2 separate regions of the Homo sapiens genome follow, and region 1 is linked to region 2. Evidence: fine-mapped expression QTL. Tissue or cell type: blood mononuclear cells. Region 2 holds a variant in brackets; the other region holds the start of a gene. All regions are shown on one strand. Distances are between the middles of the regions.

The links. PIP is the estimated chance that this variant, and not a neighbour inherited with it, causes the effect.
Region 1: it holds the start of TNR, and the variant in region 2 is fine-mapped to the expression of TNR in blood mononuclear cells (TOPMed, PIP above 0.99).

The regions. Positions count from the first base shown.
Region 1 is chr1:175,742,115-175,744,801 of GRCh38, forward strand. It overlaps TNR (tenascin R), which reads right to left and starts at 1,481. Exons shown (of 23, transcript NM_003285.3): 1 at 1,112-1,481.
Region 2 is chr1:175,625,722-175,628,408 of GRCh38, forward strand. The region is part of intron 1 of TNR (tenascin R); the gene reads right to left. Among named protein-coding and RNA genes, the nearest start is that of TNR, 120 kb to the right of the region's middle. The variant G/A (reference allele first, on the strand shown) is at 1,470.

The DNA of each region.
Region 1 (2,687 bases), 120 kb after region 2:
AGTGTCTCCAAGACAATACCAAAGCAGATGCAGGGAATTGACTGAACATACTTCAGAGAGGCAGAAAGCAGGAGAGACAGAGTAATACCTTGCAAAAAGTAGCAGCAGTGAAGAAAGAAGTAATAATGAGCTCCTGTTTGCAGAGCCTCTCAGTGCTGGAGGAGAACAGAGTACCACTTCAAGCCCTCCTGAGTCTGGGACAAGTCTAATTTTGTTTCTGCTCACCCTAGACATATAGAGACAAACCTTTATTCTTAGTTGTTTTTCACTGCCAAATGCCCCAGAAAACAGGGCAGAACAGACTTTGTCTTCTTTCCAACCACCCATAGCCAAAGATGGCATAAAAGTGGAGGGTACCTCCTGCCTCCTTGCAAATGTAATATAACCCACACCAGCCAGTCTCTGCAAAGCTCAAGACACTAGCACTTTCCTACCACCATGAAGTCAGAAGGGACCTCAACCCCCCAAAGCCGCCCCAGCCTGAGCTTCACCTGTTGCACCTGCCCACTTACCATGGGTTCACACCAGAAGAGAAAGTAAAAGGTCAGGTTGGGCTCTCTCCACAGCAAGAGCCCAGAGAATACTAGGAAACTGACATTTTACAAAGCACCTCTTTAAAGCTCTCTCAGAGGTGCGTAACTTTTAACTCTACCTCCACTCCCAACCCCCCAGGCTTCCTTTGCAACTCTTTCCCACCATGGATGGCTTGTCGGGAGAGAGTTAAAGAAGGTGCACGACTAATTCCCCAAACCATCTCGCTTATCTACAGACAAAAAGAACAGCCTTACATGGAGACACGCAGAAACCACCCGCAATTTAGCTCAGACCTCACCTGTCTTATGCAACAGTACACACACACACACACACACACACACACACACCCGCAAGGCCAGAGTCCAATCCCCCTTTAATTCGGTAAACATAGTTTTGCGCCTTTCTTTTCCCTACGCAGAACCCGACTCTACTGGCAGCAGAGAAATAGATGTAACCCTAGTGCCAAATGCCTTGCAGAACACACAGATACACAGGAACCAAAATGCATCTCATAGCTCTCCTTGGTGCTGAAATCACGTTAGCCAGAAAATCAAAGGAGCGAGTGCTCTGGACTTACCCAGGCTGGGGGTGGGCGGCCGGGGAGCGAGAGGAGCTTCCTGGGAAGAAAATTCTTGCTTGCTCAGGCTGGAGCCAGCTGATGCGCTCACCTAGAGAGCCCTCCTCTTTCCCTTCTCTTCCCTTCCTCCTATTCTGGGAGGAAGAGACAAGGCTCCACGAAAGAAATGAAACCCAAGCTGTCAGGGCTACGGGTGGAAGGAGAATGAGGAGGCAACCAAAATAAGATCAAAAAGTCAGGTGGCTTCACTCCACTAGTGGTAATTCCTTGGGTCAGAGAGGACCCCCTTCTCTCACTCTCCCTGGGTCTGCCCGTCTCCTCTGGGTGTTGAGCCAACAGCCTTAGCACAGTCGGTTCCTGCCTCTGACGTGAAAGAGAGGAGGAAGCCTGGGACTGCTTTGCTGTCTCTCTCTCTCTCTCTCTCTCTCTCTCTCTCTCTCTCTCTCTCTCACGCGCTCTCTCTTTTCCCCTCTTGCTGAAATTTCAGCAGCATGATTTTTTTAAGCCTCCGTTTTTTCCATCCCCCTACAAGCAGCCCCCTAGTGGACAGAAAAGAAAAGCATCCTAAATCCTCTTGAACAGTCCAGATTCAGGCACAGAAATACTCCCCGCACCCAACTCTTGGAGCTGCCTCTGCATAGGCAGGGTCCTGAAGAAGATAGAGGCTTCCCTCTGACCAACCCAGATAAGAAGAGAAAGGGAGAGGATGGAAGCTTTTGCAGATCCTTTGCCCATGATTGAAGGAGAAATCCAGGGTGGAATGGGTTGGGATAGAATGTTTTGGAATAAGGTCAGTTGTGGGGTTCTCAAGTGGTTTGAGGTCCGGGCTCAGCAGAAGGAACCCTCCAAAAAGTCAGCGTCTGCAGCCAGGTGAAGTATGTGTATACGTAGCACAACCCAGGCATGGGAATGCCTAAAGAGGCAGAGGATACAGGGAGCTGGCCCTTCATCCAACTCCACAATATAGCTTTTTTGTAAAGCTAGTAAGAAAAATATCTGAAAAGATATGGCCTGAGATCATCTCAGAAGTAGAGACAGAAGTGACCTTGATGCACATTTATGGAGAACCTTGGCAGAGAAGGGGCATCAAGGGGTCACTGCTCATAGGCTCATAAGGGATATCTAACATTCTCTTTTAAATGTACAGCCACACAGCCTCCCGGAAAGAGTCCTAATACTTACATCTAAAAATCTGAGTCCTGGTTTCAGACTGCCACTTGCTTACTGGACATTTTGCTTCTCTATGGCTCAATTTTACTGTTTGTAAAATGTGGATAATGCTGCCCCCTCCCTACTGAATAGGAATGCTAAGGGACTGGAATGATATAGAAACATAGAACCTCAGGATTGGCAGGGAATTTAAAGGTAATCTTATACAAACACTCTTCTTATATTTGATTCACTCCTGGCAAATAACAATAGCTAACATTTATAGAGTGTTTATACCAGGTGCTAGGCACTGTTATAAGCCCTTACATGTATTAGCTCATTTAAGCCATACAATAACTCTATAATGCAGAGGCTATTATTGCTACTCTATAGACTGGGAACTGAGTAACAGAGGAATGAAATAACT
Region 2 (2,687 bases):
CAGAGCAGACGGGACTGAGACTGGTCCACTTTCTGCAGAGGGCCTGATTTCATGGTCAGCAAGGGTCTCTGAGCCTTCTAGCCCATCCCCTCCTACCCCCAGCCATCTGCACATCTCCCCACAGGCTGAAATGATATCAAACCAAACAAGGACAAGATGCTCCTGGATATGGCTTGGCTCTGACCCCACCCAAATCTCAACTTGAATTGTATCTCCCAGAATTCCCAAGTGTTGTGGGAGGGACCCGGGGGGGAGGTAATTGAATCATGGGGGCCTGTCTTTCCTGTGCTATTCTCATGATAGTGAATAAGTTTCACGAGGTCTGATGGGCTTATCAGGGGTTTCCACTTTTGCTTCTTCCTCATTCTCTCTTGCCACTGCCATGTAAGAAGTGCCTTTCACCCTTCACCATGATTCTGAGACATTCTCCAGCCATGTGGAACTGTAAGTCCAATTAAACCTCTTCCTTTTGTAAATTGCCCGGTCTCGGGTATGTCTTTATCAGCAGTGTGAAAATGCACTAATACATTCCTGTTCGTCTTCCCTCTCTTCTACCATTCCCCAATCCAGAAGTAGGTTTTGATAACTATGATCGTGCAAAGGTCATTAAAATCTCACCCAAGCAGGTCATGACTGTGAAGTAGCTGCTTCCAGAACCATATCACCCACCTCCAGCTCTCTTTCTGCTGCTCCCTCAGTGCTGAGCTGCTATCCTCTCTCTTCTGCCTTCTGGGTGGGCTCTTGCATTTCATAGCTACCTTCTTGGGTTGCCCTAACCTCAATACCCTTTTGCTCTAAAACAATCCCTCCCTGTCCCTAATTCTCAACAAAAACCATTCTTCATGGCAGCCTTCAGTTAGTAATTGAGAAGAAAGCAACTGAGAGAGAAATTGAAATAAACCGTATATGTTTTCTAATGAGCTTTGTGTATTTATACATATGTCTTATTTATATTTGTGTCTTAAAATACTAGTTACCTATTGTGGTAGATTCAATGCTGGGCCCCAGAAGATATGTCTATGTTTTAACCCTCAGAACTTGTGAATGTGACCTTGTTTAGAAAAGGGTCTTTGCAGATGTAATTAAGTTAAGGATCTTGAGATGAAATCATGCAGGATTATCCAGGTGAAGCCTCAATCTAATGACAAGTGATAAAAGGCAGAAGAGAAGAAAAACACAGAGGTGAAGGCCATGACAGAAGTTAAGATTGCAGTGATGTCACCACAAGCCAAGGAATGCCTGGAGCCCCCAGAAGCTGGAAGAGCAAGAAAAGATTTTTCCCCTAGATCCTTCAGAGGAACCTAGATCCTGTTATCACCTTGATTTTGGACTTCTGGCCTCCAGAACTCTGAGAACATAAAATTGTCTTGTTTTAAGCCACAAAGTAATTTGCTGTGCCAACCCCACCAAACTCATACACTTGTTAATCTAAACTAACAGTATTGCTGCCTCTTGGGCATATAACTTGT[G/A]ATTGACATGGCAAGAGGACAAAGCAGAATCTCATGGAATAAAAAGCCCTGGATTGAGAGTAAATGCCCTGTGTTGTTCAAACTTTGACTGTTTCTTACCAGTGCACAAGCTGGGATGAAAAACTCTGATCCTTAGATCAGAGTTTATAAAACTTGTTCTCATTTATAAAACTTGTTCTGTCTGCCTCACAGCATTGGTGTAAACATCAAAACAGAACAGTGGATGGGGATGGGCTTTAGCTTTATAAATTTCCATATACTTGAAAAGGAGTTACTAGCTTCAGAAAGACGGAGTTCAAATTCTATTATTATATCAGTTACTAGTTATGTGATTTTGAACCACAAATTTCTCATCTGGTAAAAATGGCATAATGATACTCATCATATCGGAACATTGTAAAGATTAAATGAAATTACGAGTAGTTTGCACCAGGCTTAGAACTTGATAGGCCATCAATAAATTATAGCTCTAATTGTAATGATCATCATAATTGCCATCCCCCATCCTTACCCACCCCACCCCCAAAATGACTAAGATCAGTTCTACTTTCAAGTTAATCTGAGGCTCTCCTAACGTTTTTACACAATCAGATGTGTTCTTTGGAAACACAACTTTTCCTATTGGAGAGAGCTCAAGAGAGCTGTCTTGGAGGAAGCTGCAAATTTCTAAGAAGACTTTGGCCTTTACCATAATAGCCACTGAGAGTAATGAGAGGTCTGTAAAAGCCGAAGAAGCCAGCAGTCTCAGCTGCCCCAATCCACGATAGTCAGAATGAGCCAGGACCACTGGGAGAAACACCTCCAAATTATAGCCAGTGGCTCTCAAACTGTGCCTTAGAATCTCACAGAAGGCAGGTGAAAAAGCTTATTTCCTTGGAAGCCATGGCAGAGATTCTGATTTAGTAATTCTGGGCAGGGAACTAAAAATATGCTCTTTACCAGCATTCCAGGTGATTCTGATGCCATTGTCTGCAGACCACACTCTGAGAAATGTTGCCATAAGGCAGCAAGGAAAATGTGTTTTCAGGGTTTATCTTTCTCCCCAGGGTATCAAGTCCCAGAGCTGTGATTTGGTGTGGAGGGAACCTCTCCTACAGGTTCCTAGAGCCTTTTTAGGATCTCTGAAATCTGTGGCTTAGATAGTACTTTGCTTGAAGGCCACTTAAAGGGACCTATGGGGAAGGGGTAAAGAGTGGCACCTTTTAGGAGATATACCTA